Regions from separate parts of the Homo sapiens genome. Here region 2 is linked to region 1. Evidence: fine-mapped expression QTL. Tissue or cell type: whole blood. Region 1 holds a variant in brackets; the other region holds the start of a gene. All regions are shown on one strand. Distances are from middle to middle.

Evidence for each region. PIP is the estimated chance that this variant, and not a neighbour inherited with it, causes the effect.
Region 2: IL15 starts here. The variant in region 1 is fine-mapped to the expression of IL15 in whole blood (INTERVAL, PIP 0.98).

The regions. Positions count from the first base shown.
Region 1 is chr4:141,340,662-141,348,771 of GRCh38, forward strand. No RefSeq gene overlaps it. Among named protein-coding and RNA genes, the nearest start is that of LINC02432, 12 kb to the left of the region's middle. The variant A/T (reference allele first, on the strand shown) is at 3,077.
Region 2 is chr4:141,633,385-141,641,494 of GRCh38, forward strand. It overlaps IL15 (interleukin 15), which reads left to right and starts at 3,199. Exons shown (of 8, transcript NM_000585.5): 1 at 3,199-3,364. RefSeq lists an enhancer at 3,112-3,201.

The DNA.
Region 1 (8,110 bases):
ATTGCACGTGAAGCATTGCTCTGACAATTACTGGCCACAGCATCTCAGCATCTCAGCTTGCCCAGGGAAGGCACTGAACAGTCCATTCTTTCCAATGAGAGAAAACCACACTTGTTATTTAACTAGGACTCTATCTGGTAATGCAGAATTTTTTATTGCTCTTTATTAGCCTCTTGTAAGATACTACACAAATTTAAGAACTCTGAAAATTATGTGTCCGTCAGAGCATTTATTTATGCCATGTCTGTAATCTCCAAAGGGGTGCTCCTTAGTCATGCATGTGTCATGCCATGCGATTCTATGTATCCATTCAGATGTTATTGGATAAGGGTGGACAAGTGAACCAAAGGAAATCATTGACATAGCAGAAAAGGTGACAAGACAATGCAATTTCCTTTCTCTCGAACACGAACTGAGAGGGAAGGCAGTTAATGGGTGGAAGTGGAGCAAAATTTATAGGTTGTAAGGTAGGAAAGAGTGGAGAGACTATGAAGGGCCACTTGCAACCCAAAGATATGAACAATCAGAAACTACAAGAAAGCAGATGCAATGTTGTTGAAAGTGTGGTATATGAACATTAGTTTTGGTCTGTTAACTGTTAGTTACCAGTCTGCAATAAGCAAAGAAAAAGAGAAGAAGCTAAGCTTTTAGACTGCATAAAAGTTTAACATTGCTGTGACATCCAAATGCATGGTTTTGTGTTTTATAAAAGTACTGGCCTATGATGGATTGAGATGTGGGGGAAGGATGTTCCTTTACTGTATATAATTTGAGAAGCACTGGATTAGAAGATGATGGAGTAGTGGATCGTGGTATAAGAAGAAGGAACCACTTAGAGAAGTGCAGAGTCATATTAATGACTGAGTTTTAACGAAGATTTGTGAATGGCTGTTGCTGAAGCCCTTAGAACTGCCTTGATCCTCAAACCATCCCACCATCTTATCCTATTTTTCTTGGGGTCTAGTTCACGAACTTTTCTGTAATTTGAGTGAGTTTCTGTTCCTTGTAACTAAATAACCAAAGAATATAAATGGAAGAAAAAAAAGAAACATTTACAAAGTTGTGCTGGGGGTTCTAACTTACTGTACCATAGGATCGAGGAATGTCTTTACATATTTTTTGGGTATATTAGGTTGTCATATCATTTTAAATTAGAAGTGTGTGAAGGAAACATCAGAATGAAAAAACTACTAAAAAATAGGATAAAAAATTTGCCAATCATGTATGTGATAAGGGGTTAGTATCTAGACTATATAAGGAACTTTTACAACTCAACAACAACAAAACAAATAGCCTGACTTAAAAATAGGCAAAGGATATGAATAGACAATTCTCTAAAGAAGATATACAAATATTTAACAAGCATATGAAAAGATGCTCAACATCACTAACATAAGAGAAATGCAAACCAGGACCATAACAAGATATTACCTCACACCCGTTAAGATGGCCACTATCAAAAAAATAGAAAATAAAAAATGTTGCTGAGGATGCAGAGAAGTTGGAATCCTTGTGCCCTGTTGGTGGGTATGTAAAATAGAGAAGACATTATGGAAAGCAGTATAGAGGTTCTTTAAAACATTAAAAATAGAATTACCATAGATACAGCAACTATACTCTGGATATATATCCAAAAGAATTCAAAGCAAGAACTTGAAGAGATGTTTAAACAGCCATTTTACTTACATCACCATAGCCAAGAGATGGAAGTAACGCAAATGTTTATCAACAGATGAATGGATTAAAAAATGTAATATGTACATACAATGGAATGTTGTGCAGCCTTAAAAAGGAAGGAAATTCTAAAATATGTTATAAACAGTGATGAATCTCAAAGACATTGTGTGAAGCAAAATATACCAGTCACAAAAGGACAAATACTGTATGAATCTACTTACATGAGGTACATAAAGAAGTCAAGATCACAGAAGCAGAAAGTAGAAAGGTCATTGCAAAAGGCTTGGGAAGTGGGAGAGAAAATTAGTGTTAAGTGGATATAGGGTTTTAGTTTTGCAAGATAAAAAAGTTCTTGAGATCTGCTGCACAACATTGGGAATACACTTAATATTACTGAAGTGTACACTTAAAAATGGTTGAAATGGTAAGTTTTATATATATTTTTTACTGCAATAAAAGAAAGAGTCTGGGCATGGCAGTTCACATCTGTAATCCCACTTGAGGCCAGGAGTTTGAGAACAACCTAGGCAATATAGCAAAACTTCATCTATTTTAAAAATTAAGAAAGAATTAGCTGGGCATGGTTGCATGTGCTTGTCCTAGGCACTTGGGGGGCTTAGGTGGGAGGGTTGCTTGAGGCCAGGATATCAAGGTTGGAGTGAGCCCTGATGGGGGCCAGGCAGAGCAAGACCCTGTAAAAGAAACAGAAAGAAAGAAAGAAGGAAGGAAGGAAGGAAGGAAGGAAGGAAAGGAAGGAAGGTAGGAAGGAAAAATAAATGGGGGAAGAAAAGGAGGGAAAGAAAGGAAGAAAAGAAGGAAACTGGTGGCACAGTCATTCAGCTATTCAGGGCATATCATCAGTTTGTACTTGATCTTACCCTGAGACTGACCCCTGGAGCATCTGTGTTCCCTGGGAATATTGTAAAACTGAACAAAATATATAGCTAGGGATCCCAATCATTCTGCTGAGATTTTTTTTTCTTTGCTAGCCTTAGTAAAAAATTGAATGCTTGGGGGTCTAGGAGTTTTTCCCAGTCTGAGACACAGAGGTGGGAGACACTGAGGAGCTCCGAGGAGCTGTCATGAAGGCATCTGATACCACAGGGTTATTCGTCACTGTGTAGCAGGTCGGTCCCAACTGTGGGGAGCCCACACAGAAGGTAGGCAATGTGTTTGACCAATGGCATGGTGGGATGGTTTGGAATGGTTCAACATGGCAGAAAGGAGTGATTAAAAAGATAATCAAGAGAGATAGTAAACACAACATCTGAAGCAGAGGGAAGCCAGGATGCAGGTGGCATCTGAAATTACTGATTGATAAGGCAATTCCATACTTCTTCCCTTCTTTGAACTAAAAAATCTGGGATATTTATAGATACCTGAGAAGGAAGAAGGGCTG[A/T]CATCCTGTTAATTTTTAGGCACTGCTCTCAATCTGTTGGATCCACAATGTTTTTTAATTCAAGAACCACCTGAGTTACCATTACAATTTGTTTTGGGGGACAATGAAATATGTAGACTCAGCCAGAAAGAAGGGGGTTAGGGGACTCTTAGCTGTGGGTATGTGGATAAAGTTAAGAAGGTGAACTGAGAAATCAAACAATTGAGAACGACAGATGCCAGACTCAAGAGCATGAATTTATCCTATAGGCCATGAGGAGCCAATGAAGATTGCCATGTAGTGTAATGACATAGGGGAAGAAAGATTATACAATATAGATTTAGATTTGATCCATGTGTGCAGGATGGCTTGGGGTTCATGCCAGAGGATCTGGCATAAAACCTTGTCTAACTAATGGGGGCCTTGATCATAGATGTGAAAGAAGAATGCTAAAGAGTAGATGTGAGGGACATGAAGAAAACAAATGTTAGTAAGATTGGGGACAGATTGGATGTCTAATTAGATGACTTACTCACTTTAATCTCTTGTATTAACTTTAATTGTTAGATACAACATATATTAAGCTACAATTCTATTAGTTAGTACGCAGAGTGAGTTAAATAGGCCATCACACATCTTTCAAGAGTTTCTAATTCAGAATAGGCAATCATAGTTTTAAAAAGCACACAAAACAAATTATGTAAGAAAATTAATGATTAGGAAGAGTCACCTTAAAATAGTGTACATTCTGAGTTACAATACATTTTAAAGGAAATGCAGTTTTATTGATTTCAAGTTTATATAGAACTAGGAGTTCTAGGTTAATATTAAGTAGAAGAAGTTCTGTTTTATTAACAGATAACATTTTAAAAATTAATATTAGTATTAATAGGTAAAATTTTTCAAAATAATTTTTAATCATAAAATTTGTCCTATCCATTTAAAAGTTTGGGATAAATTTGGTCAGAATTTAAGAAGTTCTTTAAAATATGTAATTATATTTGATACAAGTGTAAGATAATTTAGAAACCCAGAGAATAATATAAAATTCTGGGACTAGGATATTAACATTTCTAATGGTCTACCAAACCATCTGGGCAGCAATTCTAGAGGAGGAATTCAAGGAGTTGTTTCTGGAGTAGAAGAAGAAAAGTACTTGTAGGTTTGAGCCCGTGCCTCCTATATATTTGTTATGGACTGAAATGCAACCCCACAAAATTCATATGTTGAAGCCCTGACTCAGTATGTATTTGGAAATAGGGCTTTTAAGAGAGTAATTAAGATTAAATTAGATCATAGGTATGGGCACTAATCCAGTAGGATTGATGTCTTTATAAGAAGAGAGAGGGACACCAGAGCTCTCTCTCTTTCTGTGAGTGCACAGAGGAAAGGCCACCTGAGAGCATGGTGAAAATGTAGCCGTCTCAAAACAGACCAGTTCTGAACAAGATGTTAGTGGTCATTTTGGGATTTTCTCCTCATCTTTGCTAGTTGAAATCTTAGATGGTTGAATTTACATTATAGCTTCATGAATTAATTGAACTTACTTTAATTTAAAAGAATAGTGAAACTGGCTGGTTTTCAAAGCACCTCTGACCTCTAATATGTTCCTCTATCACGTGGACTTGTGTTGTCATAATTAAGATTTTACCACCCAGAATGGTGGGCAACACAGAGATCTGGAATATTTCTTCTTCCGTTTCTTTCTTTCTGTTTCTCTGTCTTGTATGATAGTGACGAGCATGTACTTATGAACTTAAAAGGCATAAGGAAAAATTAATATTCACAGAAGTAGTTGAAGTATACATGCCTTAAAAAATCTGTCATATGGTTTGCAATTGTTTCTTGTATTTATTTTTAAACTTTGCATTAAAGAAGCTGACATTCCTGTGGCCTTGGAACTAGACCCCAGCTTTCCAGGAAAAGTAATTTTTTATGGCAATTAGATGGCTTAGACCAAAGCTTTTAACAACTCAGAGTCTGTCGAACAAGAAGATATTATCTCAATTCCTTTGTTAGAAAAGAAGATTTAAATTTCATTATTACTTCTTATCCATTTGGGAAAATAATGCTTCTGGTAAAAATGCCATTATTGTGTATGTTAACATTTAAGATTTGCACATATAATTCTGTCATAACTCCTCTAAGCCTGATCAAGCCAAAAGATGAGTATTGGGAATTACTATTTAAAGAGGAATCAGTCAGAAAAATGCCTGAGTTACATTTATTCAGATTTTAATCAATTAATTGTTCATTTAATAACTTGCTTATTTATTTTTATTTACTAGGTACCTATATTATACGTAACACTATGGACAAATATAATAAAAATCAAAATGTGACACTACTAGAAATAGCTTACTCTAAGTCAATTTCCTTCCAATAATTTTAGGGCAAATAGATGAATTCTGATATTTTTTGTTAAAATAACTCTTCATTTAAAACTGTTGGTGATTCTAGCCTTCTCTTGAATCTTGTTAGAAAAGGCATATGATTGTGGCTTTGAATTTAATTTTACAAAGTGAGGTTTTCCAGCTTCATAATAAACTACAGACCTCATTTCCAAGGGAATCAGTCATAAAGGATGGAGAGTAAATATTAATGTTCCAGTTCCTAAAATGTCCTTTAGATGTCTCTGTTTCATATCTCATGTGGACCAATACAGCAGGCCACTGGGAAAGACATTGCCTGAAGCTGGCTTCCTGACAAGTTGAATTTGTCCTCAAAGGACAAACGAAGCTCTTTGAAAATAGAATTTGACAAAGTTAATGAAAGAAAAATGTAGATGATGGCATGCAAATATATCATTACTACTTCATAATATTTTTATAACCCAAAAAATCATCTATAAAGGGGAGATGTCCTTTTCTACTTAGCTTGCAGACAATTCTGTTGCATAATATAAATTTAACACTATTTGGTTTTGTAGTGCAATCTGTGTTTTTATTAAAGCATATTCATTCAAGCTGGTCTTGAAAGAATCTTGAATGAACAGTAGAATGAAAGCTAAGATGTGATATTGATAAAAGGGGACTTAAGTAAACATCTAAATAATGTGCATTGATAAACCTTAGCCTTTCTCCCTCTTAACATACAGAAAGTGAGTAGGTGTGGCTTAGGTCCAATGGGCAGTATATTAGGGGATTTCTCTATGGAGTAGTTGATTGGCTAAAGGGAAAAGATCTACATACTCTGAGATTTCTGGGTTTTAATCACCCTACAATGAGGCCCACCAATTCAAATGTTCTGCCACCCAGACAGAGCTACTGATTGGTTATAAATTTGAATAGGTAGACAGGGACCACTAGACATGTGAAGAAAGCATCTCATTTGAAAGTCAGAGCCAAGAGCAAGATGAAAGGAACTCAGAGGAAGTAAAGACAGTGTAGGAACAGAAGAAAAAAATGATAAGATAAATATCCTAGGGAATGCGGGAAATATATTTTACTTCTGAAGCAATAACAGGGAGCTATAAAAATAAAAGAATAAGAAATTCATAAGAAAAATATTTTCAGCAGAAGTAAAAAAATTTAATAGAAATACAAAAGATAAAGTGAAGACTCTTCCAGAAAATTAGAACAAAAAGAGAAAGACATAGCAGATAAGAAAGAAAATATTTTAAAAAAATCAGTCGACCAAATCAGGGTCAAAATGTTTAACTATTATGTTTTCAAGAAAGAGAATAAAAATCAGAGAGAGAGGGGAAAAAATCTTCAAGAAATAATGTAGGAAAACTTGTGAGTATTGAAAGCTTTGAATTTCTAGGTTGACAGCCATCTGAGTGCCCAAAAATGAATGATAGAAAATCTGCATCAACACATAACAACATGAAATTTCAGAACCGTGAGGATAAAAAGACAACCCTAAAAGTAGCCAGGTAGAAATAACAGGTCACATTCAAAAGATGGTACTCAAACAATGGAGAAGTCCCTTCAAACTTGTAAGGAGAAATGAATTACAACCCAGAATTACAAGCTCAGCCAAGCTATCAATCAACTGTGAATGTAGAATGATATTTTCCAATATGTGGGATCTCAAAAAATGTGCATTCTGTTCATATTTCTCAGAACACTATTATGTACTTCATCAGAAAGAGGACCAACAAAAAGAGGAAGCCTCTGCATCCAAGTAAAAGATGCTACATGACAGGAGAGGGATAAAGGGACTATCTAAACGATGGTGCAGGGAAGTCCCAGGATGACAATTGTGTAATGAATCTGAGAACAGTCAGTTCAGGTCAGAAAAATTAGCCCAGAGAACTTCAAGTAGTATGTTTCCAAACTAAACAGAACTGATACTACCCAGTGCTGCACATTTGATCGCTGAAAATTATACTTCCAACAAATCAAAGATAATCAAAATACTATTTTTGTCTTGCATCGTCCCTTTATAATTTTTCAGTGGTGGGATTTTTTTTTTACTATTTTTCTTATGAATAAATTTTCTAGAAGTCTACATAGCCAATGAGCTCACTCCTAGAAGCTATAGAGCCCTGGAGGCAGAAACAGACTAGCTGTTTACCAAGCCTGTTTCTTTTTCTTCTGTTGCACAAACATAGTGTTTCCCAGCTTCTCTTGCAGTTTTGCATGACCACGTAACTGAGTTCTGGACAATGCACATGTAAGAGGAAATGACATGGCACTTCAGGGCCATGGCTCATAACAAATCTTGATACAAGAGGCTTCTTGTTTTTTCTCCTATCAGATTCATGCAGAAATGAACCTAGTGGCTCCAAAAGCTGTATGTTAATGATGGTGGAACCCTAAGGTGGAAAGAGACTGGGTTTCTAAGTCACTGCTTGGCGCTTGCAGCATAGTCAACTGTGAATCAAGAACAGGCATGTCAGGTGGTAAAAAAGTATACTTCTATTGTCCTGCCATCACAGCACATCTAGCAAAACTGTCCTCTGGAGACCTGGAAGGCAAACCATGTTTCTAGTCAGCCTATGGCTTGGGAAAGGGTTTGGAAAGTCAGTCATGGGCTTTACCTTGTGTTTCCAGCAAAGTCTTACTAAAAAGGGATGAGCTTAAGAAAGACTTGGCTATTTTGAAAGCA
Region 2 (8,110 bases), 290 kb after region 1:
TTGGACTAAGACATACTGTCTGGGGGTCCACGCTTCTTTCCTTATGAATTCAGTTTTAGAAACAGTGGAGAATGGCTGCCAATTTAAAGGCACCAGAGAGTAGGAATGTGTATTCAAGCCAGACTGTCTGAGTTCAAATCCTTGCTGGGTCAGTCAATTTCCATGTGATCTTAGGCAAGCTGTATAATTCTTTGGGCCTTGGTTTTCCCATTTGTAAAATGGAGATAATAATAGTTTATATCTCATAGCTTTGCTGTGAGGATTTAATAAGTTAACATTTGTGTTTAGCACAGCACTGGAGAAATAGCAGATTGGAGGAACTACAGAAGTCCTAACTAATACTGTTGTGGTTCTGAAAAAGCAGCAACTTGAGGAGCTCTTGAAAACCTAAATAGTATTTAAGGCCAAGAGTATCTGTCTATTGTCAGGATCACCAGAAAAAAATGTGAGAAGCAACTTCGAGGTAATGCTGCATTTCAGCATGCTTTACCCCGAATGGAAATGTAGAGAACCCAGGCAGGCCATGTTTTCCAAAGAGCAGGGGATCAACTTGTTCTTGATGGGAGGTTTAAATCTTAGTAAAACCATAAATAAGGCCACAGTCATGGACTTTGAACACTAAATCAGATGAAATAACTTGTAACTTCTTCCATGTAATCACAAAAGCTAGAAAATAAATTATTAGTAATTTATTTTAAAGATGATTGCCCAATTGACATTGTTTTTGAAAAAAGATATTAAAAATTTATTAAACTATAATTTTATTGTTAATTATTTGAATTCAGGAAGATTATTATGGTCACTTCTATGAGATTTAGTTAATCTCCACTTCTTTCTACCCTGTAATTTTATTAGTTATCTTAAGACAGTTTCAAATTATTTCATCAATCTTCATCTTTGCTTTTAATTTATGCAGCAGAATTTACTTGTTCATTGGTATGAGTAATTTTCAATATTTTGCCAAACAGCCTGTGGCAACTGAAAACACAAGTTGCATACATTAGACTTTTCTTTTTGAGTGCAATGCAACAAAAACAAATTATGTTGCAAACCCAACTTCATTGAACTGCAGGCACTCATAACTAATTAAAAATACTTTTAAAACATCTGTATTTATGAAAACAAATTTGACCAACATATTTGGGAGGCAAATAGTAGAGCAAAGCATATCTTATGACTATAATAATTTTTAGTTGTACTTTACTGTTATTTATGTTTTTTATCTCCCTACTCTGACAAAATGCTTTATATATCATTTAGTCCATCTTGTTCTAGAACCTACTATAGTTGAAACCCAATAAACAGTTGTAGACCAATTTTCTTACTGTTATATACTCAGATTATGCCTTAAGTTCACCCTACAAGTAAACTTTCCGTCAATTTCATAGTGTTGTGAAAACTCTCTAGTAGCTCAGAACGTTCTTGGTGGTCTCAATATATTAAAAGTATGCAGTCAGATACTGATGGCCCTGAGTCCTGCAGACAGCTAACAAAGCTGAAGCCCACAGGCTAGTGAGCACCAGCTGAGAGCACTTTCTATAGAGTTTGTGGGCAGTCCAAGAGAGACAGGATCTGAGATGTGATGATATGTCCTCTGGCAGCAGCAATATCTGATATTGAGCTCTGCTAGGTGGTGCTGAGCGTGGACACCTGCTTCCTTCACCGGCTGCAGAGAACACAGTATCCATTAAAGGAGCTGAAAGAGGTGCTAGAGGAGTTTACATGGCAGGAGTCCAGGAAGCTCTGCAACAGTCCAAAATGAGGTTGGGACACATGATACACTTGTTCATCCCTATTCTCTATCTTCACACATATGCATATCAGTCCTTCCGTGGCTGCTATATTCTTGTGGTGAGATCCAAACCAGCTGCAGTCTTGCTCTCCCAGTGCATGCTCATTCTGCAAATCAGAGCTTCAATGTATTGCTATGAAAAATTCTGACTGGTCTTGAAATCCATTGACACCATCACAAGAAAATTCAACATGACATCGTCATGAACAGAAATGGATGATGGCTTCATATTCTTAAATATAATTTCCAACTATGGTGAAATTTTGAATGGTTGTAAAAACTGTTTTTGCATTTTTATACCTCACTTATTTTGTTAATGGAGACTATCTAGAGTTTGATGTAATTCTCATCAAAAAGTCCATCAGTAATTATTTCAAATATAAAACTGATATCAAAAAATTGAGTTAATGAAAATAAACTCAAATTTTTCATAAAAATATGAAATTATATTATACGGAACTTTATGTACATGGAAAGTGAATAATTTCTATTATTTTTCTATTTGATATTTATCATATTTATGTAATTAAAAACATAATTAAATTTTAAACTAAATTAAACTGCGCTCCAGGAAGACATCATTTTCTCTGAACCATGACTCTGAAAATTTGGAAAGCACCGTACAAGAGGGATTTTCAGTGATTCACAAGAGTGCAAGATTCTGCAAAGTACTTTCAAAACTAAGCGTGAGATCTTTGCTACTGCCTTTATGGCATGCAAATCACTCAGCCTCAACTCAGTTCCTTCCTCCAATGTAAAAATACTACAAGAACAACATCTCACGCTTCCATCAAATGGGACCATGTGTGATATTTTACACTGGACTACACAATAGGCTGGAAAAGTGATCCGCAGAGAGGCTCATTGCTCTAAGTTCACTCCCTGTACCAACTGTCTTGCACAAAGCTGCCACCCGGGTGTCTTCTTCCAACATTTCCCCTAGTTGGACTTCAAAGTTTCCTTCTTGCAGCCTGTGCGGGGACCAAGAGGCCGGTCTAGAGTAGCCGCCCAGCATCCAGATCCGACATCCTTTTCCCTTTCCTCAGGAAGACTTGGATGCGCGCCAGCCCAGCCCGGGTCTCCAGGTTCAGCTGCGGAAGCTTCCCACATGGTGCCCGTCGCTTGGGATGCGGCTATCCTTGTGCCTTCTCTGCAGGTGTCCCGGCAGGTAGAGGAGGAGACCGGTGGCTGGTGTTCCTGCAGGGCGGGGCTGGGGCTCCTCGATGTCCTTGCGCTTGCCCTGCAAGTTCTGCGCCCCAGGCCCCGGCAGGGACGGAAACAGGCCGGGAAGCAGTGACACCTGGGGCAGTCAGTCATCCAGGAGCCGCCGCCACCCGCCCCACCCCCAGTCTCCGCGGGAGGTGTTTGTCTTCGCCTATGCTCCCGGCTCTTTCTCTTTCACTTTTCTTTTCGCCAGGGGTTGGGACTCCGGGTGGCAGGCGCCCGGGGGAATCCCAGCTGACTCGCTCACTGCCTTCGAAGTCCGGCGCCCCCCGGGAGGGAACTGGGTGGCCGCACCCTCCCGGCTGCGGTGGCTGTCGCCCCCCACCCTGCAGCCAGGACTCGATGGAGGTACAGAGCTCGGCTTCTTTGCCTTGGGAGGGGAGTGGTGGTGGTTGAAAGGGCGATGGAATTTTCCCCGAAAGCCTACGCCCAGGGCCCCTCCCAGCTCCAGCGTTACCCTCCGGTCTATCCTACTGGCCGAGCTGCCCCGCCTTCTCATGGGGAAAACTTAGCCGCAACTTCAATTTTTGGTTTTTCCTTTAATGACACTTCTGAGGCTCTCCTAGCCATCCTCCCGCTTCCGGAGGAGCGCAGATCGCAGGTCCCTTTGCCCCTGGCGTGCGACTCCCTACTGCGCTGCGCTCTTACGGCGTTCCAGGCTGCTGGCTAGCGCAAGGCGGGCCGGGCACCCCGCGCTCCGCTGGGAGGGTGAGGGACGCGCGTCTGGCGGCCCCAGCCAAGCTGCGGGTTTCTGAGAAGACGCTGTCCCGCAGCCCTGAGGGCTGAGTTCTGCACCCAGTCAAGCTCAGGAAGGCCAAGAAAAGGTACCGCAGCTCCCCACTTCCTAACTGCTCCCGTCCCAAACTCATTGTGGGCCGGTGCAGATGTCTGTGCGTGCGCGTCTATCCCTACCTTTGCAAAATCAAATTATCGCCCTCTTCTTTGCTTGCACACGTCTTCTGGGAGAGAAATTTGCAGGAATGGTCAGTGCTTGGCAGTCAGGCCTGGGTCTGTATTGGTTCCAACTCTGCGCCAGCCAGTTATCTCTTAGAGAAGCGATAGTGTATCTAGAATGTCGAAGGAACTTGGAAAAAATACGAGCGAATTTCACTGAAATAAAATCATTATTCAAGGTGGCTTTTAAATGAAAATCCAGCCAATTTTTTCAAGTGTTATTAAGACCGCATGTAGCAAGGGTATATAGTTCATTTGACTTTATGTAATTCCATGCATTAAAAACTATGTTGACTTCAAAGTATGTCTAAACCAAACTAATTCTTAAATGATGCTTACAACAGATTCTTAAATAGGATGAGTCAGCAATTTCAAAACTGGAAGTAAAGTGGTGGTCACCAGCTAGTTTCCATTATATATTTTTAAACTACTATCTAATATTATGATACTGGTGGTGGCCAACTAAGTGGACGTCATCCTTATCTTGTCAGTGTGGTGAAAGAGGCCATATTAGCTAGGCTGAATTTTTGCTCAGGTATTACAGAATAAACTGGTGATTATGCATCCTGCCATGTAGAGGTTATAAGGTGAACCATTCTACTGAAAGCATCAAGATACAATACACTTTTGGAAGGCCGAGGCGAGAGGATAGCTTGAGACCAGGAGTTCCAGTTTATAGTGAGCTATATGATCTGCCACTGCACTCCAGCCTGTCAAAAAATAAATAAATGAATAAAAAAGATATAATACAGGTTAAATTTTTAAACTCCTGTTGTTTTCGTGTGAAGTAATGTGGCCAACAGAGCAAGGAAATACATGGGAAGGAACATAAAGACATATAAAGAGAAGAACTGAAAATACAGCAAAAGCCATTTAGATTTAAAAAGTGAAGAAAAAGCTAGTTTTGCTTAAAGTTAACAAGTATCATAGAGATCTTAAGGTTTGTTATGATTGTCTTAGTTTCGGGTCCTTATTCGTGTAAAATTCTCACAGAATTTTAGTCAATCAGAAAAGTCTCTCCTGCAGTATCATCTGCTTTGCAACAGTGACAGAGAAGGGTCAGTTGACCATTGGTCTGGAACTTCTGATAGGCAGGGTGTTCCCATACTTTTGGTTTCACTGTTCCTTGCTGATTTGGAGTGGCAACTCCAGAACCTGATTGGAAGCTATAGTTCTGGTTGGAATTTTCCTGCAGACTACTGGTGATTAAAATGATGCTCTTTTGTTTTAATCCATGAAATTAATGTAGCCAATGTCAACAGCTATATTGCAAGGCACAATGTTTATAAATTTCCTTGGGGGATGGAGAAAACAGTGGTTTAAGGTTTATCGAAATAGATTTTGGAAGTGGAAGGTTTTAAAGCCTACGGGATACTCCATCTCAGATTTGCTGCCTCTGATGAATTTCAGGACAGCTAGAAGAGCAGCCCTGAAATGCTGGGTACATGTGGATTTTTCTCAGGAAAATATCCGTAACTTTGATCAGCTTTTTAAATGGGTCTCTGACCCAAAAGAGTTTTAAATCTTTTGAAAATATAGACTACTGTCCTTTTCCCCTCATCTCTCCTGGAGTTTAATGTTGAGTTCTGCTCATTGTGTTAACTATTTTTCTGAAGGTTAGCTGATCATAATACAGAGTTCTGTCTTCAGACCTATAACTTAAGTTATGAGAAACAGTATGAATAATAACTAACATTGTTGAGTTCTTATTATGTATCAGACATTGTTCTAAGGATGTATTTTTTAAAAACATCGTAATAAACTTATGTGGTAGGCAATATATTTTACAGCTGAGGAAATTATCAAGGTCACAGAGCTAGAAAGTGGTAGAGTTGGAATTCCAACTGAGACAAGTTTAAGACTGGTGGTATTTATGGAGGATGGTATTATTTGCATACAAATATTTCGTACAATTTGACAGTGATAATCCCTACTTATTTTCAGGCAGCGTTGTAATGGTAGAATGCCGGTTTTAAAGTAATGTTTGTATGGTACTTGTGCAATTGACATTATTATATATTTAAAGATTATCTTTATAATCAAATAATATTCATTTGAGTGTCAAATATGTGTTTGGTATATTGGAGAAATTTCCTTTATGGTCCCTGAATGAAAACATTTGTCTAATCTGCATCACTTTCTGCTGAAAGAGCCTGACAAATAGTAGGCAAATGTGGATTGATCTAGATATCTGTCTCTGCCTATCTATGTATCCCTTCTTCCATACAACTAGAAGTCTGGGATTCATGGAGAGGTCAGAGAAGAAGAGTTTCCCATAATATCCCAACTGGAGATGATATAGTTAACTATTTGGGACATCCTCTCTTCAGAAGGCATTATGGTAGAAGGTTTGGCAAGAAGCCACTTCTTTTGCTCGATATTAGCTCTTTGATTTACTTACCCGTTGATTACAGTAACTGCATGAGACTACTGACACTGAACATTGCTTAAATACTTGCTGCTGTCCTATAGGAATGGGTTGGATGGAAAAATTCCATAGAGGAGTTGAAGGAAAAATTGTTATTTTAGTGAGTACTGGAATGCACTAACACCTATTTGATGGTAAATTTCACTAATTAAATACTATCAACTATATGTCTATATGTGTGCATATATGACTATATGTGTATATATACTGTGTATGTGCATATATGTGTGTGTATGTATATATTGTACTGTACTATTTGTTAACAGCTGTGGGCAGACAAGGTTTACTTTTTACTCAGCTTCCAGACTGTATTGAATATATAAACATAAGAAGCTAAGAAATCTTGACAGAAAGCCTGAAGGACAAATTATTGTTATTAACAGTGCCATTCCAGTAGGAACCTAATGTGAATTTGAAAGTTTCAAAGAGGAAGCCTCTGCTATGTTTCAGCCACCATACTGGCACTTCATCTGTATGTCCTCATTGAATTTGAATAACCATTGCATTTTTATCCTGAATTTACAAAGAAAAAAAAAAAAAGACATGCAGAGTTTTGCTTGCATTAGGACACAACTAGGTAAGACAGACACTCCACTGAGATTTATCTTGATTCTAATGTTAATGCTCCTTTTCGGATATCATATGCATTCTCTTCTAAGAAAACTCAGGTGTTCAGTGTACTGACAACTAAAATGCTGCTATCCTTACCTTGAAATAGACCCTGGTCACCATTTGGGGTGATTTAATGCTATTTATGAATTTGCCTATGTCAAAGAATATTGCCCTTTTTTAAACAAACAAAAAAAAAAGTTGTTTAGTGCTGGAGTCAGAAAGAGGAGAAAAAGAGGCTCTTTAATCTCAGTTTAGTTCAATAATATTATTTGTCCACATTTCACATCCAGAGCCAGGGTATTTGTATGCATTTATTTTATAGTGTTTCATCCCACTGCAGGGGCAGAAGACTCTATGTAGACCGTATAAAAATGGATTTTTAAAAAGTCTGCATGTAATACACAGTTGTTTCTTCTCTAAATGCTAATAGTTCCTCCAAGTGCTGACAGGGTGCAGACAAAATCAGGAAAGTGACAAATTATTTTGTGAAATGAGGGAATTGAAACTGAAAATGGTTGTAGAACAGGAAAATATGATGGTTGTAAGGTTGATGGCGGTGGTGGTGGGGGTAAGCTCTGCTTATCATTGTGACACACGAAAGGAGCCCAGAGAGGGTCTTTGGTCCCTTATATCACTGAATGCTACTTCTCCTTCCTGGGTATTTTGCTTATGTGCCTTCTAATAGAAATCTGACAAAGTAGTCCTTGCACACTGTTAGCACTGACCTCTAAAATTATCAAATGATTTTTTCTTAATTGAACATTTTACTGTTAAAGATTTTCTATTTTCCTGACTCATCTGCAACAAAAATAAGTACATAAAACTTGATTTTTTATTTGAAGGATTTTCGTTGTGAAAATTATTCTAGCTTATGTTATTTAAAACACTATCATTATAAAATTAATCAAAGGAACCATTAATTTTTGATAAGTGATTATTAAGCATAAAACTAAAACATATATACCCAAAGGATTATAAATCATGCTGCTGTAAAGACACATGTTTATTGCAGCACTATTCACAATAGCAAAGACTTGGAACCAACCCAAATGTCCATCAATGTTAGACTGAATTAAGAAAATGTGGCACATATACACCAT